Homo sapiens: one gene and its partners. The protein of the gene in region 1 interacts with the protein of each later gene in a pairwise test. Each region holds a gene or a part of one and is shown in the gene's direction. Other genes may lie near its edges.

Region 1 (7,028 bases):
TGCTCCTGAGTTGGACAGTGGAGAGTAGGAATGCCTGGCGTGTGGAAGGGCATATATGATAGTAACTCATGTAAGTTCAGTTAATGCATTTCTAACAGTTAAAAAAGTAACTCATGAAATAAAGATCATATGGTACCTACACTCAAGCGGCTAATCATATAAGGAGAAAGATAAGCAGCCAAGCTATGTATGGTGGTAAAGGATAGAAACACATTCCAAGGAGGTTATTTGATTTTATGGACATCCAAGGACAGGAAATGCAGTGTAGTCAGGCCACCTAGGACTAGAACTGGAAAGTCTCATTAGGTTCTCATCTCCGTTTCTTCACAAGTCTGTTTCATTACCTCACTTTTTATAGTCTAGTGGAAGACAATGCAAAGCCTCTAAGAAGACAGAAAATGGTAGACCTGTTGAGGAACCACCAGAAATAGCCCAGGATAAGGAAAGGATGTCACCTTTTACAAATAATGCCTGGTACTTAATAGGAATACATGCACTAACTACCTGTGAATAGATAGACTTCATAATCTGTGCTCTCTGTCATTCCTTGGGTGTCTTCACTCAGTGAAACCTGCCCTCAGATTGCAGAGTAATAGGTATTGACTCCTGCTGCTGGCAGTGGGCGATAATGAAAGGAGCAGGGGCAGGAGTAAGAATAACAGATCTTCCTAACCTTGAGCCTTCCCACGTCTTTTCATTAAAACATACATGTATTGAATGCCTTTTCCCACAAGTCCAGGATGCATTGATTTAGTTGTGTGCATCTGGCACCATGAACAATTTTTGTCCCAGTGACTGAATGTTATAAATAATTTTTGTTGGGCATAATTAGAATAAAAGGAAACTGTGTGTTGCAATTGGAAATGGGCTATGAAGTGGTTGGTAAAATAGGAATGGAGGTTTTGTAGTGAATCCCTGGATAATCTTCTGATGAACTTGTGGTCTGTGCTTTACTGGCCTCTTTCATTAATCATATGCCATCGTAGGTCTTTCTGAATCGGTGTTATGTTATGAAGAAGTAAGTGCCTTGGGGACCAAGCTGCCCACTGATTATAGTAAACTTTAGATATGTTTGATTCAGAATATAATTTTCTTTTGATTTTACCATATGATTTTCTGCTGTACCATATATAGAAGAACAAGAAATAGGAATGTCATTCTTTGGCTGCAGTGTTGGCTCTGTCCTGCTGTCCAGAGAACTTCTTCTGGTGCCTATATAGAGAAAGGTTGCCAGTCCTGAGCCCACTCAGGGACACATTCTCTGCCTATTCAGATACAGCAGAGAGCGTTGCCCAGTGTTGCCTACTCAGAAGCCTTCAGTGGTTCGCTTTCTTCTATGACATAAAGTCTAAGTTCCTTTAAGACTCTTCACAATCTGCCCAGCTTCCTAGCATCATTTCCCACCAGTCTCTTCCCACACACTATACTCCAGCTTCATTCATTAATAGAGCTTCTACTGTGTGCTAAGCTCTGTTCTGGCCATTGCAGGTAAAGTAGTGAACAAAACAGGTAAAATCCCTATCTTCATGGCACTTAGATTCTAATGGATGGGGTCGATTGACACAGATAATAAACTGGTAAACAAATACAAAATAGTAAAAATAATGTATCAAGTAGTGATAAGTGCTATAGAGAAAAATTAATTTGATTAAGGGAGATAGGGAGTCCTAGAATGAGGATGTGGGGAGCAGGTGACTTTCATTTTAGATAGGATGGTAAGGCCAGGCCTTTCTTTTTTTTTTTTTGAGACGGAGTTTCACTCTTGTTGCCCAGGCTGGAGTGCAATGGTGCGATCTCAGCTCACTGCAACCTCTGCCTCCTGGGTTCAAGCAATTCTTATGCCTCAGCCTCCCGAGTAGCTGGGATTACAGGCATGCACCACCACGCCCAGCTGATTTTCTATTTTTAGTAGAGACGGGTTTCTCCATGTTGTTCAGGCTGGTCTTGAACTCCCGACCTCGGGTGATCCACACACCTCGGCCTCCCAAAATGCTGGGATTACAGGCGTGAGCCACCGCGCCTGGCCTGGGCCAGGCCTTTCTCATAAAGTGTTGTTTGAGTGGATATCAGAAGGAAGTGAGGACACAAGCTATTCAGGTAAGTGGAGAGAGAGCATTTCAGCAAATGTAACAGCTGATGTTGGGAAAGAGTGTGGCATGATTAAAGAACATTAAGGACGCCAGTGTGGCTACAGTGAAATGAATGAAAAGAGAGTGGTAGGAGAGGAAGTTAGATCAGAAGGAACCCAGATCACTGGGGCCTTATAGGTGATTGGGAGGATTTCATCTTTCACTTGAGTGAGATGGATGTTATTAGAGGTTTTGAGCAGAGGAATGACATGATCTGACTTCCTTTTAAGAGAATTATTCTGGCTGCTATGTAGAAACTTAGATGGTCAGAAAGCAAGAGTAGAAGCAGTGAGTTGATAGATAATCCAGATGATGGTGGCTTGGACTAGAATGACAGTGGCAAAAATGATGAGAAAGGAGTTGAAGTGTGTATATATTTTGAAGATATAAGAGCAGGTGAGGATGGCATCAAAATTTTTGGACTGTGTAACTGGAAGATTTGAGTTAAGAGAAGGAATGCAGGAGAAGTAAGTGTGGGAGTAGGGAGCAGTCAGGAGTTTAGTTTGAGTTGCTGTCTACACAGATGGAAAGATAGCTGGGAGAGTCTAGGTTTGGGAGGGGGCGGGGCATAGAAATTGAGTTGCCTATCAGATATTCAAGTAGACCATAGAGTAGACAGTGGATATATAGTTTGGAGTTCAAGGGAGAGGCCCAGGTAAGATATATAAATTTGGGAGTCATCTACATATAGATGGTATTTATGTTCATGAGATCACCTGCAGAGTAAATATAGGGAAGAGACTGAGCCCCAGAGTGCTCAACACTTAGAGGTTATGGAGATGAGGATGAACTAACAAAGAAGACAGGAAAGGAACAGCCAAGGAAGTTTGTAGAAAAGTAAGAGAATGTAAAATGTGGTAGAAATACCATGAATGTGTTCTAGGTAAGATGGTCTGTATCCATCTTGACTGACCAAGTAAATAAGACCCAATAATTGACCACTAGATTTGGCCACGTGGAGGTTACTGGTAATTTTGTTTGTTTGTTTTTGTAGAGACAGGGTCTCACTATGTTTTCCAGGCTGGTCTTGAACTCCTAGGCTCAAGAGATCCACCTGCCTTTAGAAAATTAAGTACTGGCTGGGTGTGGTGGCTCATGCCTGTAATCCCAGCACTTTGGGAGGATGAGGCAGGTGGATCACTTGAGGTCAGGAGTTTGAGACCAGCCTGGCTAATATGGTGAAACCCCGACTCTAGTTAAAAAAAAATACAAAACTTAGCTGGGTGTGGTGGCATGCGCCTGTAGTCCCAGCTACTTGGGACTACAAGCGATTCAAGGAGAATTGCCTGAACCCAGGAGCCAGATGCTCCAGTGAGCCGAGATCACACCACTGCACTCCAGCCTGAGTGACAAAGCAAGACTCCATCCTAAAAATAAGTAAATAAATAAAATAGAAAATTAAGTACTCAATAAATGTTCACTGCTATATTCTCTTTTTTCAGTTTTTGCTTTTATTTTTGTTTTTCTGTCACACTGGGCTGCTGCTATCCTGTTTCAGAACTATAGTGAAAATGGGTAGACTAGCTGCTCTAACAAGGGATATGTGCTTTTCCTAGAGAGCAGTCTTTGAGATGTTTGACCAGTGGCTTCCTTCCAGTGCCCCCTTGACCTGCGCCATGGGCTCACACTCCTATGCCATTTAAAAACTGTTTTATGTTTAATTTTCTATTTCCATCTGATACTTGAATCCATGTCATTTTTTTTTAACCCATTATCTTCTGTTTCCCTTCTCACTTGAATGAAGTTGAGAGAGCAGAAGCTTGGTTCATCTTCTGGCTCTCAGTCTTCCCCCACCCCAACTCCCAACTTTGCTTTTGAACTACAACCTTTTTTTTTTTTTTGAGACGGAGTTTCCATCTTGTTGCCCAGGCTGGAGTGCAATGGCACAATCTTGGCTGACCCCAACCTCTGCCTCCGGGTTCAAGCAATTCTCCTGCCTCAGCCTCCCGAGTAGCTGGGATTACAGGCATGTGCCACCACGCCCGGCTAATTTTGTTTTTGTGTGTGCGTGTTTTGTTTTGTTTTGTTTTGAGACAGAGTTTCGCTCTTGTTGCCCAGGCTGGAGTGCAGTGGCGCGATCTTGGCTCACCAAAACCTCCGCCTCCCACGCTCAAGCGATTCTCCTGCCTCAGCCTCCCGAGTAGCTGGGATTACAGGCATGTGCCACCACGCCCAGCTAATTTTGTATTTTTAGTAGAGATGGGGTTTCTTCATGTTGGTCAGGCTAGTCTCGACCTCCTGACCTCAGGTGATCCACCCACCTTGGCCTCCCAAAGTGCTGGGATCACAGGCGTGAGCCACCGCAACCAGGCGAACTACAACTTCGGATGTGATTGTTCTTTTGTTCTGTAGCTCAAGGCTAGACACGTAGGGAAAATGACGCCATTTGCTGGAGGATTGGATTGTCTTTGTTCAGGCTGCAAAACAGCTTTTGCATCAAAGTTGAGGTCTAGGAGAAGGCCACCTCCTTGAGCCCTTCTTGCTAGCTAGAGTCCATGTTCCAGCATGCCAGGACTCTCCAGTGATTTGTTTTTATCTTCCCTCCTCCTGAGCCTTCATCTTTGAGAGAGAACAAAGTGGAAATAGTGCCAAACTCTGTGTTATAAAGTATAGTGGTTTTGCCGCTTTAGCCTTGGTCGACTCACTTTACATTTCTGAGTTGCAGTTTTTCCATCTGTAAAATGGGAATAATAACTCATGAAGTTTGACTCTACAGACTATTATTGTAAGATAAGGATGCAAAAAGCTTGATAAACTAAAGCACTGTTTAGGTGTAAGGCAGTATTATTACTCTCCTCACTTCTTTATCCAGGCTGGACCAGGCTTGCAGGGAACTGGTGCCAGACTCTGTATTTTCATTTTTACTTTCCCAGGATATTCACCTATATAAGGGGCAGAACCCAGTGAGGCTCCTGACCCCATAATATCTTGTGATGGACTTCCATGGTCTTGCCATCCAGGAAGGTTCAGCAACATAGCTAAACTATTGATTTGCCAACTCTCAGCTCCTCCCAGCCATGGTTGTTATAGCTCGGTAATGTGGGTCTGAGAAGCTTTGTTGCCTTCTCTCTACTCCATTGGAGATGCCAAGGAAGAATTGTTATTTCATCTTCTCTTAAAACTTTGACTTGTCTCCTGTAGATGCTTGGCCAGGCTGTCAGAACATCCTGGGAGTTAATGAGAGAAAAATACATATAGCTCCCACTAAGTGCCTATAATGTGTCAGGCACTATAGTTAGTGCTTATCTTGTTTAAACCTCATAGCATCCTTTGAAATAGGTACTTATTATTTCCAGTTTACTGAAAAGAAAACTGAGGTTCAAAAAAGTTAAATCCCTTGTTCTAAGTCACATAGTGAGTTAAGTTGCAGAGCTAGAATTTGAACTTAATTCTATCTTATTCCAAAATTTGTTGTTCTAATGACCATACCATGAGGCCTCCTGTTACCATACAGAAAGAGGGGCCATGTGCTACATAGGAAAACTCAGGAGATTTCCATTCATATGATCTACATGAAGATCCCAACTGCGCCTATGCGATCTGGGACAAGTGGCTTTCAACTTGTCCAAGCCTTAGATACTATCTCATTAACTTGTCACCATAGGTGTTTTTTTTGGGGAGAGGGGGAGATTATTTATTTATTTATTTATTTATTTATTTATTTATTTATTTTGAGACAGGGTCTTGCTCAGTTGCCCAGCCTGGAGTGCAGTGGCAGGATTATGGCTCACTGCAACTTCCAGCTCTTGGGCTCAAGCGATCCTCCCACCTCAGCTTCCTGAGTAGCTGGGACTACAGGCCCGCGTAACCACACCCGGCCAATTTTTGTATTTTTAGTAGAGACAGGGTTTCACCATGTTGGCCAGGATGGTCTCGATCTCCTGACCTCATGATCCACCTGCCTTGGCCTCCCAGAGTGCTGGGATTACAGGCATGAGCCACCGCGCCCAGCCAGTAGATGTTATTCTTATCTCCAGTTTACATTTGAAGGGAACAGGCCTCAGTGAGTTCAGATGACTTGCCCACGGATGCAGAATAGTAAATGGCAGAGCCAGAACTCAGGTCCAGGTCTATCTAACACCTGCTTCAGTGTTCTTTCCACCATTTTTCACAGCCAGCTTCTAAGACCTGGTGTATCATTCAGCTAGATTTATAGCTCTGAGGCTGCTGGTTGGAAGCTGGCATCCTTTTCTGCTCTCTTTCTCCTCCCATACTTTCTCCCTCTTCTTAGAAACCTTACAGAGGCAATATAGGTATTTGAAATTCAAAGAAGAGATTTATGCCGTGCTTAAAATCTGCTCATACTGCCCCATTAGACACCTGGGAATCTGCCTCTCGTCTTTTGTATGGGTTTGTACTGTTACTTTGGTAGCATGATGTGGTGGGTATAGTTTTGGGAATGTTCTTTCTCAGCTCTTTTCTTTATGAGTATAATCTTGTGAGGTGGCTGTAAAGTTAGAGATGATGAATATTCAAGGGTAGCAAGTACAGGCTTATTATTTGATGGCAGTTATTTCCCCTGGCACCAGGATCTAATAGAAACCAGAATAGCAGTCAGGAGTTCTAAATCTTTTACTCCTATTCTTTGACCTTGGATATGTGAGTCACTGTTTCTAGATAGACTGGCTAGTCTTTAGGGGCGCCTTTCAGCTTTAATGTCCTGCACTTTAAAAAATGAAAGTAATAAGATACTTGTTTAAAAAAAATCAAATTAGACAGAAGTATTTGAAGGAAAAAGTGAAAGACCCATATCCTTTCCCCCATTCAGTTCATTCCCAATGTGTAACACTTATTACCAGTTTGATGTATCCTTTTCAGTGTTCTCTGTGTATACTAAATATACACAAGTATGTGTAACATACACAGTTTATATCATGTGCATATATATATAAATACACA
Region 2 (7,028 bases), on another chromosome or scaffold:
ATGTTTATATATATATTTATATATATATGGAAGACAGAGGAAATACCAGTAAAAGGAATCTCTTTATACTTGCTGGTACCTTACAAACCCATGAACATCCCTCTCTACTCTTACCCCTCCCTTGAATTTTTATTATTTCCTTTCTTTTATTTGTAGTTTTGCCAAATATGTCTATATCTCTAAACAGCATTGTTTAATTTTGCATATTTTTGAACTCTATGTAAATGGAATCATTTTTCCTGTAACCTTCTGCAACTTTTTGTGTTTGTGAGATTCATGCATGTGGACAGGCATAGCTGTGGTATGTTTGTTTTCACTGCTATATACTATTCCATTAGATGACTACACTAAAATTATTTTAAGTAGTATCCTATTGGTAGACTTTGGGCTGTTTCCATATTTCTGCTATTCTGAGTCATGCTGTTATAAAAAATGTTAGACATGTCATCTGGTGCACATGTCCAAGAGTTGCTTTAAGACACATGCCAAATGTCAAATTTTATCTTCAGTTTTTTTTCACTGCATACCAAATTTAATAAAACCATGCTTTAAAATTTTTACCAGTTGCCTCTTGGATGGGTGTAAGAAGTGTTTTTACTCTGCATTTCCTTGATTCCTAATGAAGATGAGCATCTTTCCACATGTTTATTGGCCTTTTGTATATTTTCTATTCTGTGAAATGGCTGTTGATGTGCTTTATCTGTGGCTTTTAAAGAACAAAAATGAATTCACTTTGCACTAATTTTTGCAATCTATTTTTAAAAATACATCACAGATGTCTTTCCATTTACTAAGTATGCTTCTACAATATAATTTTGATGGCAGAATAATATTTCTTGTACTACAATTTACTCATTCTTCTGTGTTAGAGTATTATGTCATTTCACTTTTATCAGCAATGAGGTAGAGAGCATCCTTGCAACCAAATGTCTGTATATGCTCATGTGTTACAATCTTAGCATATGCATTCCTGGAAGTGGGATTATTCAAAGTGTATGAATAGTTTTAGATTTTTGATTCACGTTGCCAAGTTGCTCTCCAAAAAGGTTTTATCAGTTTGTATGCCAACCAGGAATGCATGAGGGTACCTGTATGCTGGTATGAAAAATCTTTTCAACACTGTTTTTCATCCATATTCCTGATTATTTGTGTGACTTATTGTCTGGGTTTTTTTTTTCCTTTATCTTCTTAAGTGTCCATGTTAGCTGTAGAAGAGTATGAGGAGATGCAAGTAAACCTGGAGCTGGAGAAGGACCTTCGAAAGAAAGCAGAGTCATTTGCACAAGAGGTGGGTATCTTGTAAAAATCTTATTTTTTTTCTTGAGACAGAGTCTCGCTCTGTCACCAGGCTGGAGTGCAGTGGCGCAATCTCGGCTCACTGCAACCTCCGACTCCCTGATTCAAGCGATTCTCATGCCTCAGCCCCCCGAGTAGCTGGGATTACAGGCACACGCCACCGTGCCCAGCTAATTTTTGTATTTTTATTAGAGATGGGGTTTCACCATGTTGACCAGGATGGTCTTGATCTCCTTATCTCGTGATCTGCTCGCCTTGGCCTCCCAAAGTGCTCCCAAAGTGAGCCACCGTGCCCAGCCGTAAAAACCTTTTGAATTTTTGTTTTGTAAGGGACCTTGCAGACGACATATCAGACAAATTCTTGAGGTTGAATAAGAACTTACCAGTTTGAATTAAGGATCTGCTGGTTTAGGGAGGCAGATATAGAATAGTATCAAGTTCATTGTCAAAAGATCTGGGCTCAAATTTTGGCCATGTCAGTTACTAGTTGTAGTAGTGTATGACCTCTGAGCAATTCTTCAGCCTCTCAGGGCTTCACTTTTACCATCTGTAAAATGGACAATAATACAGACCTGACCAAGTGGATTTTAATGGCAAAATTTAAAAAAAGTGTTGTATAAACTATAAAATGCTATGTAAGGGAAAGGAATTGCATTTGGAGACAACCCATGACTTGTGATGGAAAGTCCAACTTGGGTACAAGATGCCTGTACATTTCAAATAGGCTTAAAATCTGGGATGTATCTCCATATACCATCTCAGATAACAGTATTATGGTATCAGTATTTCTCTTCAGCCATTGTGCAGTGCTGTCATTATGCCAGGAAGTTCTTCCACTGGCTGTGGAACACTGCCATGTAGTACATTCATTATCTCAGCGTTTCACCAGCCTACTGATCTTCCTCTTATGTTAGAGATCAGCTTTGAATCTCTTGTTCCGGCTTACCTGTTGACATGCAGTCGTTGGGTCTTCCATGGCCCTGGGGCTCATCCAGGGGGATGAGGAGTTCACCAATGGGCTAAACTCAAAAGCTGGTCTGCAATGAGATCTCCATCCTGTGGGTGTAGTTTGAATTTGTGTGCATACTGTAGGTTGAAGGAAGATAGCTCAGGAAATGTAAAACAGTCCTAGGTAGAGGTATCCAAGGCATAGAAGGAAGACAAAGCATGGCATTAGGGGAATGACATTTGAAAATCCAATGATGGTTTTGTGGGGGTCTTTCTGTGCTTGAGCATAGCTGTGCTAGCAGTGAACTCTACCGAAGGTTTAGGCCAAGTAGATCTGATTTGAAATATTATGATTCGTTTTATTTAGAGAGTTTAATGAAAGGTGAGTAAATATTTTTCTCTTATTACTTGGAAGAAAGAAAAAAGAATTGAAGTGTGTCAGAGCTCTCTGGAAAACGTTGGAGCAATATAAATAATGCAGTGAAATAAACAGTGGAGGGGGAGGGGAAGCAGGGATAATGTGAAGATGCCTTTATTGCAAAACTGGAAAGGTCGGCTGATTTTGACCTGAATAGCAGGTCTCATTTCAAGACATGTTCAGTTTTCCATCTGTTGTTTGCACAATGATGTTAGAATACAAAGCAGCTCAAAGAAAAACTTGAAGGCCATGTGGTAGCAGAGAAGACAGATGGAAGAAGCAAGGTTGCAGTAAGAAGACAAAAATGAATGATTGACTCTGCTGTTCACCTGGTCTTCAGTCTTAGTGGTTGGTGGAAACAATAATGCTGACATGTTAACCCAGAATGAGAAGGTAGAAGTTTGAGGAGAGAAAGAAAGCAAGAGCAATGGTACTTACGTTATTGGCAGCATAAATATTTGCAGTGGCACTCAACAATTTTACAATATCTAGATTCAATCTACACAATAGTGAGAAGAAAACTTTTTTTTAAAAAATAGCACCACGTTGGAACTAGTATATTTTCCTTTTTACAAAGTTTATGCATTCTCAGGTTTTCAACAGGTAAGTACTGCACAAAGACACATAACTTAGTTTAACAACAGAGTCCCATTCTTTTGCATTTTACTTACCACTTAGGGCATGCAGCAAACATCTTACTGTGCCAGACACTGTGCTGACATTGGGAATCCAGTGGTGAAGAAAGCAAATGTGAGCCCTACCCTCTTGGAGCTTATAGTCTAGAGCCTTAGAAATCAATTTTTAAGGTTAATTTACTTTATATTTTTAATTAAAAAGGAGTATGTGTGCCTTGCACAAAGATACAAATATTTTCTAAATGTATAAAATAAAAATTGAAAGTTACCCCCCATTCTTAACTCCCGCTAGTTCATTTAAAAAACAAAACCAAAAACTTAATCCCCCTCAACAAGAAAACTATCAGTTGTCTTCATAACTATATTAAAATTTTAAATTTCTTCAACATAATTAAATTTTTTGACCAGGCATGGTGGCTCACGTCTGTAATCCAAGCACTTTGGGAGGCCGAGGCGGGGGGATCAATTGAGGCCAGGAGTTCAAGACCAACCTGGCCAACATAGTGAAACCCCATCTCTACTAAAAATACACAGATTAGCCAGGCATGGTGGCAGGCACCTGTAGTCCCAGCTACTTGGGAGGCTGAGGCACGAGAATCACTTGAACCTGAGAGGCAGAGGTTGCAGTGAGCCGAGATTGTGCCACTGCACTCCAGCCTGGGTGCCAGAGCGAGACTCCATCTCAAAAAAAAAAAAAAATTACTGTAATCATAATGGTCACCCAAAACAATTCATTTTAATTAAATCACTGGTCTGAAGTTTAAGATACTGTGATGAAATATTGATTACTCTTTCTTAGAATGCTGAAGCTGCATCTCACCCTTCTCCAGCCAAGTGTACATGCACATACTCTTCCTCACTGCAGTCTCTATACCTCTCACTCTCACACAAATGGAAGAAGAATGTGGGTTTCATGTATATGCAATTGTTTATTTACCTGTTTGACTTTGTAATGTGTTTTAATTCTGCAGAAGAACCCTGTCGTAGTTTTGTAGGCTTTTCATAAATCCCTAGGCAAAGAAGGAAAGCTTCTGACCTTTTTTTCCCTTTCATAGGAAGACATACTGGGAAGAAAATGTTAGTGTTTTAGTATACTGTATTCATGACTTGACTTTGATGTGGAAGTCGATACTGATCAAGAGCTTAAGGATTGTATAAATCATTAAAGCTGTGGTCTTGCCACATGGAGGTTGATGGAAAATATTTTTGTCCTGAGTTTTATTTGCTGACTTTTTCTGTTACATGATGGGTGAAGTTGTTGAACAAACTAATATGAGGGCTTTAGCAAATCATTTTGCAGTTCAGAGCTTTCAGTTAAGTTATAATGTAAATTTTAAAATGCTGTTAAAAATCTGAAAAGGTGAAGCTCTATTATAAAATTGGTAGGCCAGATTTCAGAGTTTACAAAAACATTTCATACTTGGAATCACTCACTGGCCAAATTGGGTAGAGTGTTAAGGAAAAGAAATAACAGGTAAATAGAAATCAATATTATTTTCAATCATGTAAAGTTGTGAGGATTTGATGAATAACATATAAATTGCTTAATACAGTGCTCAATAAAATATACTGTCTCCCTTCTCCCCTTTACCCTTCTACTGTTAACTACTTTTATCACTAGGGAGAAACTAATTAGTTTAAAACAAAACATTAGATCTAGCAAATAGTAGAGGAACTTAGCCAGATGGTTAAGAGCTTGGGCATGTAAATCAGATATGGGTTTAAGTCCTGGTCTTGTCACTTACGTGTGTTCTTGGGAAAGTTGCTTAACTTCTTTGAGCCTCAGTTACCTTATTAGTAAAATTAGATGATAGTAGTGTCTACTTGATAGTGTTGTTTTAAGGATTATATGATATAATGAATGTAAAATGATTCCCACCATATCTATCACATAGTGTTTAGTAAATGTTACCTATTCATAGTAGAAGCACTTTAATAGGATTGATGTAAGGATTAAAATAATCCATATAAAATATTTAGTGGAGTACACAAGGTAAATTCTTGAGAAATATTAGCTACTACTATTAATATTAATGTATCTTAAAGCAATAATAAAATATTAAAAACTGAAGAGTAAGACCAGCTTATTGTATAAATATCTTGTTGGGGCAGGAGTAAAGGTATTAAAGATTATATAAAAGGAATGAAATCATAGCAATCACTACTTCTAAAACTTATAGAAGTCAGAATTTGCCTTTAATGATTTAATAAAAATTCCATGTACTTTTCTTTTGCTGAAGTTACAGTTGAGGAGGTATGTGAGATTGATTGATATATACATTCTTGTAACAAACTTTTGCAGATGTTCATTGAGCAAAACAAGCTAAAGAGACAAAGCCACCTTCTGCTGCAGAGCTCCATCCCTGATCAGCAGCTTTTGAAAGCTTTAGACGAAAATGCAAAACTCACCCAGCAACTTGAAGAAGAGAGAATTCAGCATCAACAAAAGGTAACCCATTTTCTTCTGGAATCTTAGGTACACACACACATACATGCATACACACATATATTTAAGATGAAGGGAGCCAGTGCAGTCAGTCCAGTCATTTACTGTTTCATATTTTGCCTTAGTTACTAAGTGCTTTCAACCACCTTTTAGAAAAAAATAACTAAATGAACTTAATGTTGTGAAACTGAAATTTGTAATACGCTATTATAGACTTTATAATAATCTTTAAACTGTCCAAAGGGTCGGAAGAAGCAAGGGAAAGAGGTATAACTTAAAAACAGCTTGGATAAGGCAAAGTCTGGAAATTCAATTTTTGGAAATGTTATATTTTTTGGAGACTGCACACACTAAGAGGCTGTATTCAACTCAGAGCACTTGTTGGAGGGCATAGGTTTTATTCAAAGAAAATGACAGTCCGTATTAGTAGTAATTGTTTGCTTAGAGAAAATTTTTGATTTTGTAAACTTGCACAAATGTGTATGTTTAAAGACTTCCTAAGTGATTATTTCAATTTGATGAGTGGAGCTATTCCAGCTGACACAGCCTACCTCTGTGTGCCAAGAAGAAAGGATAGTCATTGTGGTAGGTGAGAGGAGAAGCAAAGAAGTGGAACAAAGACTTCCAAATTAAAGAGACCACTTAAGAAAAATTACATCAATGTTTATACTACTTATAATGTACCTCATTTGGGAAGGAAAGGCTGTTAGCTGCTACTTGTTACCACCTGTCAAAGCCTCTGTGGCAACAGTATTGACATTTAATCCTTGGAAGTTCTGAAGTTTTTACAAACTTGGTGGTGAGGTTGAGTTGATTTGTTTTGCCTCAATAAGAAATGTTGATATATGGTGGCTGGTAAGATGGCCGAATACGAACAGCTCCGGTCTGCAGCTCCGAGCGGGATCAACGCAGAAGGCGGGTGATTTCTGCATTGGGTACCCGGCTCATCTCACTGGAACTGGTTGGACAGTGAGTGCAGCCCATGAAGGGTGAGCTGAAGCAAGGTGGGGTGTTGCCTCACCCGGGAAGTGCAGGGGATTGGAGAACTCCCTCTCCTAGCCAAGGGAAGCCACGAGAGACTGTGCTGTGAGGAATGGTGCTCTCCAGCCCAGATACTACGCTTTTCCCACCATCTTTGCAACCCACAGACCAGGAGATTGCCTTGGGTGCCTACACCACCAGGGCCCTGGGATTCAAGCACAAAACTGGGTGGCCATTTGGGCAGACACCAAACTAGCTGCAGGAGTGTTTCTTCATACTCCAGTGGCACCTGGAACTCCAACAA
Region 3 (7,028 bases), on another chromosome or scaffold:
CTGTCCCTGGAATAGCACACTCTCTTCCCACTTGAACATCCATCCTACACGGCCCAGTCAGGGTCTTCTTCCTTCCTCCAGGAGACCTTCCTGATTGCCCTAGCCTTCCTCCTATACGCCACATCCAACTGCCTGAGTCCCTCATAACAGGCTTTCGGTCTGATTTTGCTGTGGGAATTGATTTGCCCGGCCAAGCCAAGAACCCTTCCCTAGGCAGCAGAAGCCCAGTCACTCAGTCACTGGTGGGTGGGACGCGGGGTGAATCTGCGTAGGGTGGGGCGGGGCATTTTTAGCTCAACACTGGGTCAGAAGTCACGGCCAGACAAGAAACGGGTGAGAAACGGGGGAGGAAGGGTGACGTCACAATTGGTAGGAAATACCTTGGGACTTGACGCTTTCGAAACCAAAGGGAGAGCAAAAGCAGCCGGGAGCGCGCGGGCCGACCTGGTTCTCCTCCCTTCCCACGGCTGCCTTAGTACAGAATCTTATAAGTCCTCCTCCTTCAGAGGCTACAAATGGTGTTCCGAGGCCAGGGGAGTTTAAAGCTCGATTTCACCCGCGCAGCCTCCAATCCGGTAAAGAGGGGCCGCGGAGCCCGACCAAGTCTTCCTATGCCTTACTCTGCTGCTTTACCTGATCTATTTTTGTGGATGCCGGCGCCAGCTACGGGCGCCCGGAGAAAGCACGAGGCCGGGTGGACTCTGGTAACGCAAGCGGCAAGGAGGCCGCCATGTTCCACTCTGCAGCCGCTAGGGATCGTGGGAGTCACCCCTAACCGCGCCCGGGCCTGGGTGGGCGAAACGCATGCGCTCTAGAAGTTGCTGAGTCGCTTGGCGGTGTTTCTGCGCAGGCGCCGTAGCCCATAGCAACCGCCGTAACCTGTAGCAACCGGAAGATGTCGCTTCCGGCTGGTTTGGGGCTAAGAAAGGGGTTATAGTCATTTCGAGATCATAGAACGATGTGACAGATAGGAAACTGAGGCTGGGTTGGAGGCAGGCCCTAGGGACCGTTGCGTTGGACCTCGCTCCTGTGGCGCGGTGGATGGAGTTTGTGGCTTGTGGCTCCTATTTCCCAAAGCAGGAAATTGAGACAGAGGGAAGGCACAGGTTCGTCCTGAGGCTGCAGCCCAGGTGATGGTTCCCCGGGTAAAAAATCAATATGATGCCCTTTGTTTATAAGGAGAAGGCAGGGACATGAAAGTAATTTCTAATAAAAGAATATGCATTTCACTTTGTAAAAGCTGAGGCTGGCTTACACCCGATCACGCTTGTACCCAACTTAGGAATCAGCTTAGGTTTACTAGAAGACAATATTCAGCTGAATTTTGCCAACAGTTTATATCTGACATCTTGAGTCAAAGGCTAAATATATTTATATAAAAGCGCGGAGTCACTGTGACAGCTACACATGTACACAGACGTGAGCATGCTGTTCGGGTGACTCACCCGTGGGGAGCAGGGTGGGCAGCGATTTTCCAGAATGGTGAGCAAAGTGTAACTCCCCACAACCAACCTGATATATGCATTTCCAGACAGTCTAGTGTGTACTAAAACTAGGGAAAAATTCATTGTGATTGTATGTACAACCAATTATAACGGATTTTTGGCTTACTTGAAAGTTTGGCAGGATATCTGAAAGTTGTGCGGGACAGGACCATTTGTTATGGTGACTGTAATGGACTGTCCCATCCATTACAGGAGTTTCATATCCCTGCCCCCCCCACCCCCGACAGGGATATGACTGTCCCCTCAGTCTCGTGACACCCAAAAATGCCCACATAAATTTCCAATCTGTTCCTTGGAAAACCACTGATTTATTCAGTCAAATAATTTTTGCTAGCATATGTGTGCTGGGCAGTGCCGTGGCGGGGAAGGATCGTGTGTGAACGGGACAGAGCTCCTGCCCTTATGAGTGAGGTCCAGTGTAAGAAAATACCCAGATATTAATCACATAATTTGATAAATAGCTTGGCAACAGGGGCAGTACAGGTCAGGGGTGGAATACATGGGAAGACCCAGCCAGGCAGCCTGGGTATCATGCAGTCTGGAAAAGCCAAGCAGAGAAGTAGCATCTGAACTGAGCCTCGAAGGAGCATCACACCAAGGAGGATGATGTGCACAGCAGAGGGACCAGCACGTCTGGCACACAGTGGACACTCAAATGTTTTGAATGATTGAACGAAACACAGCATGTTCGCTGGCAGGGAACCATTCCCCATTATATTGTGAGCTGCTACAAGGCAGGGGATACAGTATGCCTTTCCTATCCCCAGGTTTCACATCCATGGATCCAACCAACTGTAGACAGAAAATATTTAAAAATAAAAATTAAAAAAAACAACAAAAATTCAAATAAAAATAAAATATAACTTTGTTTAGCATTTACATTGCATTAGGTATTGTAAGTAATCTAGAGATGATTTAAAGTATACAGAAGAATGTGCATAAGTTATATGCAAATATTATGCCACTTTATGTAAGGGACATAAGCAGCTGTGGATGTTGGTATCCGAGGGATGGGGAGTGAGGGGCATTGTCCTGGAACCTACCCCAAGGAACGACTGTACCTGTTTTCTCACTTCCCCGCATCCCAGCACTAAGATGGGATCCAGAGAAGGTGGCAGTGGTGAAAGGATCTCAGACACAGAAAAAGGGTTATGTGATCTGGCCCGGGAGTGATTTCCAGGAAATGGATCTCTGACTCCCTGCTCTCCCAGGGGACAGCTGACAAAAATATAAGTGCTCTACTGGTTAAATGTTAGGAAAATCAGGGCAGGAGTGGCTGCTTATTTTCGCATCTGCTGTTCATGCGTGGTCCTGGTGGCAGGTCATGTTTTGGCAGATGATAGCTGCTCAGGACTGTCCCAAGATTAAAAATCTCATAGTGTGTGTACACAGTGGGGAAGGCTATAAGCAAAGGGGTCTCTTCCCCCAGGTGGTCTAAAGGAAGTCAGAGCCAGACTCCCTCCCCTCCCAGGAAATTCCTGTCCTGTTGGGATGGTCATTTCTACCCCAAAGGCCAGGCTAGGGCAGGGTCTGGAACTGGCTGCCTCCAGGAACCAAGCAGGCAACGTAAATCAGTGAAGGGCTGATGGGTACTTGCGGAAACAGGAAAGCACGTACAGCCCCATTTGCGAGGTAGGCTGTGACTCAGCCGGGTGAGTGTTGCCATGCACTATTCCAGCTCTTGCCTTGCCAAATGTTTATATTTTTTTCAATCCAAGTAAGAAGTGACGCATTTTGTGTTTCCAGATTTTTAAATATTGGCACTAATTCAGATTTTAAAAACAAAAGGCTGGGCATAGTGGCTCAGGCCTGTAATCCCAACACTTTGGGGGACCGAAGCGGGCAAATTGCTTGAGCCCAGGAGTTCAAGACCAGCCTGGGCAACATGCTGAAACCCTGTCTCTACAAAAAATACAAAAATTAACCAGGTGTGGCGGCATGCACCTATGTCCCAGCTACTTGGGAAGCTGAGGTGGGAGGATGGCTTCAGCCCAGGAGTTGGAGATTGCAGTGAGCCAAGATCGCGCCACTGTACTCCAGCTTTGGCAACAGAGTGAGACTCTGTCTCAAAATAATAATAATAATAAAACAGGACTGTGAGAGGCACATTTGGGACTTCTGGTCCTTGTTTCATCCAGGAAGGTGGGTGTTCTTAGGATACTAGAGCTTTACTTTACAAGGAGAAAAGTGGAAGCCCAGGTAGAATGTGTTGCTTCTGGCAATATTATTGAGCTAGCCTCCATGCTAGGGGTTAGAGGCTTCACAGCAAATGAGAAGCCCCTGTTCCTGCCATCTTGGAACTCCTAAGGAGGTAGACAGACAAGTAAAGAGGCAACCACAAGAGTGGTGAATACTCAACAGGAGTAGGACATGGAGCAGGGGCTAGGGGGAGCACAAATCAAAGCAGGCTTCCTGTAAGAGGAGCTCCCTGATCTGAGACTTGAAAATTATTAGGAGTTGGCCAAGCAAGGAGCAGGGAGAGGAGGGGTATTCCAGATAGAAGGAATAACACATGCAAAAGAGACAGGAGGGAATCACATGCAAGGACGTGGAAGTAGCTCATTGTGGCTGGAGTTGAAAGTAGCAGCTGAAAGGACGTAAGGCAAGAAATGAAGCTGGAGAGGTAGACTAGGGTTGCAAACAAATATCTATTGGGACTTGGCACCAGTGAGTACAATGGTCTGGGTGTAACAGCCAATAGAGGATGGTGGACTGGGTCACCCTGGAGTCTGCTGCTACTCAATTGTAGCTACTCTGCTATAGCCTAGGGTTGCCAAAGCTTCCTGTTTTTTGGGAGCAGTGGGAAATTCGATTATTAAATCCAGTACCTTGAGCTTTGTGTTTAAGCTGCTAATCTGAACGTTTACAGTACTCCACAAGGTCAAATAAAATCTATTTCCATCTGGCCCTGGGCCCACCAGTTCCAATCTCTGGTGGAATCGTGAAGGCCCTGTGAGCCTCTTTAAGGAGAGTACATTCCCAAGGCAGGGAAGCCACTGGCGGGCTTTCAGCCAGGGCATGACATCCCAAGTGTGTACACAAAGGGCCTGGTGGCTGCTGTCTGGAGAGCAGCAGGACGGCAGGAGGGGAGGCAGCAGTGTGTTTGGAGGGTGTTATGGCACCTGGAGAGGGCCAGGGAGATGATGGGGACCTGCACAACACGGGATGTGGGAGAGATGGGATTTGATGACAGACAAGAAGGGATAGTGGGGGCGGGGCCAAGGATGACACAGGGGTCAAGGCAGCAGGTGCAGAGGGAGGAGAAGGAGCAGTGATGGATGAGTATGTCCTCGGCGTGCCTGTGGTCACTCAGGGAGGTGCCCAGCGGATCTGATCCTGGGAAGCCTGGAGTCACATCGCTCAGGCACAGGACCCTCAGTTTCCTGTGCCACCAGCGGGCATTCCTTTATCATGTGTACCCATCACATGTGAGTTCAGTGGGGTGAATAGGACACACCTTTACCCCTCAGAACTGCAGTCAGGACAAGTGGCGAGTTCAAGCAAGAGGCTGGCCCGGTGCTGTCCCGGAGCTGTCCCGGAGGGCAGGGTCCTGGGTGGGAGGGGCAGTGACCGTATTGCCTGGGAGCCAGGGGAGGCGTGTCCCACAGGAACCGAGGGTGACAAGGAGGTTGGGCAGGGGCTCCAGTTGGAGTGGACTGCCTCAGCGAAGCCTGGAGGTGTGACAGAGCCAGTGGTTAGTGAGTAAAGGGAAGGAACCCAGAAAGGCAGACTGCTCCTTCCCCACATTTCGTCAGGAAGGGAATAAAACATTTCTTAAGAGGTCATCATTCCTTTCACTTTCTCGGGGCACCTTGCTCAGAGGTCCTGCTGATTCTCCCTGGGACAATGAGAAGGTGTTTAGTAAATAAGTGCTCATGGTGCCTCTCCACCCCCCATTCCCTCCTCCCTCTGGAGCAGTGCCCTGTTGAGTGTCTAAGTTCTGCTACAGTTTGTGTGAGAGTCTTTATAAATTTCCTACTGGTCTTACTTCATTGTGGCCAAGATTAAAAGTTGACAGTGAGGCTGGAGATGAGTGGAATACAGTAGAGTTCAAATATCGACAGGGGATTAGGGGTGGAGTTCGGGGAGGCATTCTAAGTGCCCTGCTGCCTTTCTGTTTGAATATTAAGTTCCAACCCGCTTGCTGTTGCGGATGTCTGTGCCTCCTTTCAAGGGGGCATCAGCTGCATCCTTATCCTTCCCCACCCTCTGCACTCTGCAGGGTGTTCTGAGAATCAGCCATGTCATCCCTGTACCCATCTCTAGAGGACCTAAAAGTGGACCAAGCCATTCAGGTAAGTCGCCAGGCCCCATTGGCCTGGATTCCCTGAAGGGGACCTTGGGGATTACCCTGGAAGGTGCTGGGTACTGGGGCCACTTGGAGATTCCCGTAGGCCTCAGGGCATGTAGGTGTCCACTGCAGGGCCTGCTGGGCAGAGAAGACATCCAGGGGGCAATGCCAATGGCGTTACAGCAAGAATAGAAAAGACCAAGCAGCGCACGCATGCCTCTCTCATGCCTGCTCTGTCCTGCCCAGGCCCAGCTCTCCCTCCCTCCAGGATGGGCGGGCTCCATGCTCTAAGGCAGGCTTTCAGAGGAAACAAGACTAGTGGGCATAGGCATTGGTCTGCTTAGCCCCCAGAAGCCCCCTTCCTCCTCCATCCCAGCACTCTGTGGTTCCAGTGGGTTTTGAGAAATGGAGACTTTTCAGCTGAGAACTTGATTGGGAGATGGGCCTTGATGTTCTGCCTGTTGCAGGCAGTAAATGGGTTGTGACATAGGGTGGGTCACAGTCCCCCAGAACTTCCTCCCAGGAAAAGACACATCTGCGGAGGCCACGTTTACGTGATCTTGAGCCCTGAGGGTTGGTGCACACTCCCCCCACACCCCGGGCCCACTCACACCCCTAATGCCCAGACCCTGGCCTCATGGAGCTCCAGGCTCTGGGGTTCCTGGGGTCCTGGCCACAGCTGACCAGTGCTCCCTGCTCCTCCCCAGGCCCAGGTCAGAGCCTCACCCAAGATGCCAGCCCTGCCAGTCCAGGCAACAGCCATTTCCCCACCACCAGGTGAGTGGGCTGGGATGAGGGGCTCCTGGGTGCCAAGTCCTTTCAGGGAAGAGATCATCAGGGAAGCTTGGCAATGCCAAAGGTATGGGAGGCTCCAGGGTTAAGGACTCAACATGGTGGGAAGAGAGGACCAGGCTTCCAGTTGCCACCCACCTCTTACTGCCTGGGTGACCTGGGCTGAGTCACCTCACCTCCCAGAGCCTGTGCCCATGCTGTTCCCCTCCCTCCTTGACTGCCTGGTGAACCCCTGTTTATCCTTCCAAACCCAGCTCAAGTTAGGGAAGCTATGGCTTCTCTGATGCCCCCAGCAAGGCTGCCTTGAGGATGTGATATCATTTGTGGGGCCTCTGTCTATATAAACGATTTGAGTCACCTCAAATCAGCATTTCAGCACCATTCTGGTGATCCAATCTCATGTGACCCCGGGAATGAAATACCACACTTGTCAGACTTCC
Region 4 (6,831 bases), on another chromosome or scaffold:
ATCTCCTTAGGCACTCTCTAATTAGATGTCCTGGGTCCTCCCAATTCTTAGACCTTTTATACCTGTTTTTCTCCTTCTCTTATTCCATTTACTTTTTCAATTCATATAAAACCATATCCAGGCCATCACCAATAATTCTACATGATAAATGTTTCTTCTAATAACCCCACAATATCATCCCTTACCACAAAATCTTCCTTCAGCTTAATCTCTCCCATTCTAGGTTCCCACGCTGCCCCTAATCCCGCTCAAAGCAGCCCTGAAAAACATCACCCATTATCTCTCTATACCACCCCCAAAAATTTTCACCATCCCAACACTTTACCACTATTTCACTTTATTTTTCTTATTAATATAAGAAGACCAGAATGTCAGGCCTCTGAGCCCAAGCTAAGCTATCATATCCCCTGTGACCTGCACGTACACATCCAGATGGCTGGTTCCTGCCTTAACTGATGAGATTCCACCACAAAAGAAGTGAAAATGGCCTGTTCCTGCCTTAACTGATGACATTGTCTTGTGAAATTCCTTCTCCTGGCTCATCCTGGCTCAAAAGCTCCCCCACTGAGTACCTTGTGACCCCCACTCCTGCCCACCAGAGAACAACCCCCTTTGACTGTAATTTTCTTTTACCTACCCAAATCTTATAAAATGGCCCCACCCCTATCTCCCTTCACTGACTCTCATTTCAGACTCAGCCCACCTGCACCCAGGTGAAATAATGCTCACACAAAACCTGTTTGGTGGTCTCTTCACATGGATGCACATGAAACAAACTACACTATAAGGCCATAGTCACCAGAACAGCATGGTACTGCTATAAAAATAGGCACATAGACCAATGGAACAGAATAGAGAACCCAGAAATAAACTCAAATACTTACAGCCGACTAACCTTCAACAAAGCATACAAAAACATAAAGTGGGGAAAGAACACCCTATTCAACAAATAGCCCTGGGATAGTTGGCAAGCCACATGTAGGAGAATAATCCTGGATCCTCATCTTTCACGTTATAAAAATCAACTCAAGATGGATCAAGGACTTAAATCTATGACCTGAAAATATAAAAATTCTACAAGATAACATCAGAAAAACCCTTCTAGACATTGGCCTAGGCGAAGATTTCATGACCAAGAACCCAAAAGCAAATGCAACAAAAACAAAGATAAATAGGTGGGACTTAACTAAAGACCTTTTGCACAGCAAAAGGAAGAGTCAGCAAAGTAAACAGACAACCCACAGAGTGAGAGAAAATCTTCACAATCTATACATCCAACAAAGGACTAATATGCAGAATCTACAAGGAACTCAAACAAATTAGCACGAAAAAATAATCCCATCAAAAAGGGGGCTAACAGCCGGGCGTGGTGGCTCACTCCTGTAATCCCAGCACTTTGGGAGGCCGAGGCTGGTGGATCACCTGAAGTTGGGAGTTTGAGACCAGCCTGATCAACATGGAGAAACCCCATCTCTACTAAAAATACAAAATTAGCCCGGCATGGTGGCGCATGCCTGTAATCCCAACTACTCAGGAGGCTGAGGCAGGAGAATTGCTTGAACTCAGGAGGCAGAGGTTGCAGTGAGCCAAGATCACACCATTGCACTCCAACCTGGGCAACAAGAGTGAAACTCCATCTCAAAAAAAAAAAAAAAAAAAAGTGGGGGGTGCACTAAGGACATGAACAGACAATTCTCAAAACAAGATATACAAATGGCCAACAAACATGAAAAAATGCTCAACATCACTAATGATCAGGGAAATGCAAATCAAAACCACAAAACAATACCACCTTACTCCCACAAGAATGGCCATAATCAAAAATCAAAAAATAATAGATGTTGGCGTGGATGTGGTGAAAAGGGAATACTTCCACACTGCTTGTGGGAATGTAAACTAGTACAACCACTATGGAAAACAGTGTGGAGAATCCTTAAAGAACTAAAAGTAGAACTACCAAGAAATACCATTTCGTCCAGCAATCCCACTACTGGGTATCTACCCAGAGGAAAAGAAGTCATTATACGAAAAAGATACTTGTATATGCACGTTTATGGCAGCACAATTCACAACTGCAAAAATGTGGAAGCAGCCCAAATGCCCATCAATCAACGAGTGGATAAACAAACTGTAGCATATATATATTTATATATATATGTGTGTGTGTATATATGTGTGTATATATGTATATATCTATACATATATAGAGAGTAGTATTCCATCATACATATATATATGATGGAATACTACTCAGCCATAAAAAGGAGTGAATTAATGGCATTCACAGCAACCTGGATGGGATTGGAGACTATTATTCTCAGTGAAGTAACTCAGGAATGGAAAACCAAACATCGTATGTCCTCACTCGTGAGAGGTAGCTAAGCTATGAGGATGCAAATGCATAAGAAGGATACAATGGACTTTGGGGACTGGGACTCAGGGGGAAAGTGCAGGAAGGGCGTGAAGGATAAAAGACTACAAATTGGGTTCAAGGCATACCGCCCAGGTGACGGGTGCACCAAAATCTCACAAATCACCACTAAAGAACTTACTCATGTAACCAAACACCACCACCTATGGAAATAAAAATTTAAAAACCTATGGAAATAAAAAAATTAAAAATAAATAAAAAAATAAACATAAGTTCCAATTTCAGGCCATCTCTTTGTGAATGCATATGACTGTACACTTTCAGAAAAAGGTATGTCACATCTTGAATGCTTTGCTGCTTAGAAATTTCTTCTGCCAGATGCCCTAAATCATCTCTCTCAAGCTCAAAGTTCCACAGATCTCTAGGGTAGGGCCAAAATGTCACCAATCTCTTTGCTAAAGCATAGCAAGAGTGACCTTTACTCCAGCTTCCAATAAGTTCCTCATCTCCAACTGAGAGCACCTCAGCCTGAACTAAAAAAAAAAGGGGGGGGGGTTATCTAGACAGTGTTTCTTAAATTCCAATAGAGTTTGTCATGCATTTTTTATTATGTATTCCTGATTTTGATAGTTTAATCTGCCTGCAAAATGAACGTCAAAATATTTGTGAGGTTTTTTTTGGTTGTTGTTGTTTGTTTCTTTTTTTTGAGACAGGGTCTCACTCTCTCATCAGTGCAACATGTGATCCCGGCTCACTGCAGCCGCACATTCCCCGGCTCAAGCAATCCGCCCACCTCAGCCTCCTGAGTAGCTGGGACTACAGGCGCACACCATCACACCTGGCTAACTTTTGTATTTTTTGTAGAGATGGAGTCTCCCTATATTGCCCAGGCTGGTCTCAAACTCCTAGCCTCAAGCCATCCGCCCGCCTCGGCCTCCCAAGTGCTGGAATTACAGGCGTGGGCCACCGCACCCAGCCTTATTTGTATTCTTTATGTCCAAGTGTACAATTCATTTCCGTATTAGAAACGATCCATGCACAATCTCACGAAAACATGTTATCTACTGAAGGAATCTGAATTCTTCCATTTATCTATCTAATCACTTACTGATTGAATGATTCAGTTCTTCCAAAAAACGTATCCTTAGGTTTTTATCAAACTACCGTCTGTTCCGATTCTGGGGGCCTGTATATTAAAATCTCCCACTACACGAGTATATCTCATTATCTCTGCATTTCTATTAGTGTCCCCTTTTCTTCAGTTGCCGCCTTGTTCAGTGCACGGGTCAACTCTGAAAAAAAGGGGAACAGAAGGGTCTCTGGCCTCAGGGCTAGTGGGACCAGGTCTGGGGCTGAACCACAGAGTCGCCCCGGCCTCCCGCCATCTAGAGAGGCTACGCTGCCCCAGATAGAACGAGCGGCGGGCCGGAATTCGGGGCGGGACTTCCGGGGGTCAGCCGGCGTTGGCTGAGACGTCTTCGTGCCACGGTGCTGCCTCCTTTCCAAGCGCGACCCGTTGAGGTTAGTTCCGCGAAGCTCCACGCCTGGGACCCTGCGTCTGGTTGTCCCTGATGCCCCCGTGGTTGGGGGGCCCAGGGGCCTCTCAGGGCTCAGACGGGGCGGGCAGCGAGCTGGGGACCCCGGGCGGGGGCGGAGCCGCGCGGGGGGTTGTGGGAGCGCGGGGGGGGCGGGGCGGGGGCAGCTCGGCCTGGGCTGGAGGTCAGAGCCTCTGGGGGCTGCCTCCGGTAGGGGGTCTCCGGGGAGACCCCGGGGTAAGGTCGCCGCGAGGGGCCGAGCCAGGACTCCGCCCACAGGCTGGTGGCGTTCCCGCCTGTCGGTGCCACCATTCGAGCTCGGGCGGAGCGACGGGGTGAAGGGGTGGCCTGCCCTTCCACACCTGTGGGATATCTCATCAGGTGGGACGAGAGACTGAGAAAAGAAATAAGACAAAGTGTAGAGAAACAACAGTGGGCCCAGGAGACCGGCACTCGGCACACTAAGGACCTGCACCGGCACCGGTCTCTGAGTTCTCTTAGTTTTTATTGATTATTATTTTCATTATCTCAGCAAGAGGAATGCAGTAGGAGAGCAGGGTGATAATAGGGAGAAGGTCAGCAAAAAAAAGCATGTGAGCAAAAGAATCTGTGCCATAATTAAGTTTAAGGGGAGGTACTATGCCTGGATGGGCACGTAGGCCAGATTTGTTTCTCTCCACCCAAACATCTCAGTGGAGTAAAGAATAACAAGGCAGCATTGCTGCCAACATGTCTCACCTCTCACCATAGGGCAGTTTTTCTCCTGTCTCAGAATTGAACAAATGTACAATCGGGTTTTATACCGAGACATTCAGTTCCCAGGGGCAGGCAGGAGAGAGTGGCCTTCCTCTATCTCAACTGCAAGAGGCTTTTCTCTTTTACCAATCCACCTCAACACAGACCCTTTACGGGCGTTGGGCTGGGGGACGGTCAGGTCTTTCTCATCCCATGAGGCCATATTTCAGACTATCACATGGGGACAAATCTTGGACAATACCCGGCTTTCCAAGGCAGAAGTCCCTGTGGCTTATCGCAGAGCATTGTGCCCCTGGTTTATTGAGACTGGAGAATGGCGATGACTTTTACCAAGCATCTGCTTGTAAACATTTTGTTAACAAGGCACATCCTGCACAGCCCTAGATCCCTTAAACCTTGATTCCATACAACACATGTTTTTGTGAGCTCAAAGTTGTGGCAAAGTGGCTGGGGCAAAGTTACAAATTAACAGCATCTCAGCAAAGCAATTGTTCAAGGTACAGGTCAAAATGGAATTTCTTATGTCTTCCTTTTCTACACAGACACAGTAACAGTCTGATCTTTCTTTCTTTTCCCTACATGGGGCAGCAGTGCGATGGGGTGGTTCCCAGCGCATGGGAGACAAGGGTGGGTTCGTGGTTCCTGGTGTTCCATGAGAAGTCAGAGATGCACTGAGCAGAGCTGGGGGAGAAAGGGGGTTTCGCTCAGCCTCAGATGTCCTGCCTGGGAGGCCCAGTCAGTAGTGGAGTCGCTCTGCGTGTGGAGGAGGTACTCTGGGAAGGGAGGAGAGTTTGGGCCAGTTCTTCCCCAAGGGGGAAGGTGCTGAGGGATCGGCCAGGGCCCATCCTGTGGCTGCTTGCTATGGGAGGGTGGTGGCTGGCTCTTCCAGTTGTGTGACTCCTAAAGAGCAGGCTTAGCCTCTAGCCAGGAGACTCCACTTCCAAGCTTGTTCAGGCTGTTGGCCGAATCTGTTTTTCTTGAGGTTGGTCCTCAGAAGTGCTGGCTGCCAGCCTGAGTGATCCTTAGCTCTCCGAGGTCCTTCCATGTGGCCCTCAGATCTTTCTCAGGCTTTTAAGGGCTCATTTGATTAGATTGGGTCCACCAGGGTAATTCACGTCCATAACCTTAATTCCCTTTGCAAAGTCCTTTTTGGTATGTAGTGTAACATAAGCACAAGTTCCAGGGATTAGGATATGGACCTGGGTGAGAGGGGGCATTTATTCTGTGTCCTGGTAAGCAAGATCCCACACATAATGAAGTGAGAAAAATAAGGTGTGAAGCCATAGCATAGTTGGGTGTAATTTATCATTAAAAGGCAAACATATGTTTATATATTTGCTGTGTAAACCTAGATTAATCTGGAACGGTACACTAGAAACAAGGGAAACTGTGTGGATGTTTGGGGAATTTTTCACCATAAATCCTTTTTACCTTTTAAATTTTGAGGTGACTATGCCCCTATTCAGAAACAATGAGAATTTAAAGTATTTTTAAATAAAATGAACTAAATAAATATTGCAGATTATTACATCACCACTTGGATGGGGAGAGGTTTCCCTCGAGGAAACTGGGCATCTGCACTGTAAGGGCAGGCAGATGCAGTCACAGAGGGCCTTGTCACCCCCATCGCCCATGTCTCCTCCATTTCTGCTGCCACGTGGTAGGCACCTTAGTGCTGTACCTGCTTTGAATCTCATCTCCCACCATTCCTCTGAGCACCCTGCCAAGTTAATCTTGAGATATTAGTTTTGTCTCTCCTGACACAGAAATGTGGCCAGTGTTTCACCTTCATCTGGCAGCCAAGGCCCCTTATCATTGGTCCATAGTAACCATCCCTGTGAGCTCTGTTCATATCTCCTTGCCTTCTCCTTGATGGTGATCTGAGTCCAGGAGCACCACCCAGCCCTTCTTTCTTCCCCACATGGCCTATGGGTGACACGTACCATCACGTTGACTCCCTGCACCATCCTTCTGCCACCTTTCTTCACATCCCCTTTGCAGATCCCCTTGACCACACCCTCATTCTCAGCTGGTGCTCATGAAGGACAGAAGAGTCAATGTCAGTACAATGTGAGTGAAGGGCTGAGGTATGTCAGTGCTCCCAGTGGGCACCCGGGCAGGGTATGGTGCATTTACACAGTGAGGGGTGGGGGAATCAGTAACATGTGA

The links.
Region 2: the proteins of ZCCHC17 (region 1) and SHTN1 interact in binary tests that used the Homo sapiens proteins (3 or more experiments, as listed by UniProt).
Region 3: the proteins of ZCCHC17 (region 1) and SDCBP2 interact in binary tests that used the Homo sapiens proteins (3 or more experiments, as listed by UniProt).
Region 4: the proteins of ZCCHC17 (region 1) and ZNF16 interact in binary tests that used the Homo sapiens proteins (3 or more experiments, as listed by UniProt).

What each region holds. Positions count from the first base shown.
Region 1 is NC_000001.11:31,356,028-31,363,055, forward strand, and holds part of ZCCHC17 (zinc finger CCHC domain-containing protein 17), read left to right. Parts: intron 1-3,560; exon of another isoform or gene 3,561-4,770; coding exon of another isoform or gene 4,771-4,803; intron 4,804-7,028.
Region 2 is NC_000010.11:116,939,184-116,946,211, reverse strand, and holds part of SHTN1 (shootin-1), read left to right. Parts: intron 1-1,193; coding exon 1,194-1,288; intron 1,289-5,599; coding exon 5,600-5,746; intron 5,747-7,028. UniProt on the Homo sapiens protein: Involved in the generation of internal asymmetric signals required for neuronal polarization and neurite outgrowth.
Region 3 is NC_000020.11:1,319,135-1,326,162, reverse strand, and holds part of SDCBP2 (syntenin-2), read left to right. Parts: intron 1-293; exon of another isoform or gene 294-333; intron 334-380; exon of another isoform or gene 381-820; intron 821-1,793; exon of another isoform or gene 1,794-2,297; intron 2,298-4,962; exon of another isoform or gene 4,963-5,727; 5' UTR 5,728-5,746; coding exon 5,747-5,800; intron 5,801-6,503; coding exon 6,504-6,573; intron 6,574-7,028.
Region 4 is NC_000008.11:144,947,858-144,954,688, reverse strand, and holds the start of ZNF16 (zinc finger protein 16), read left to right. Parts: upstream 1-3,808; 5' UTR 3,809-3,892; intron 3,893-4,065; exon of another isoform or gene 4,066-4,287; intron 4,288-6,663; exon of another isoform or gene 6,664-6,749; intron 6,750-6,831. UniProt on the Homo sapiens protein: Acts as a transcriptional activator. Promotes cell proliferation by facilitating the cell cycle phase transition from the S to G2/M phase.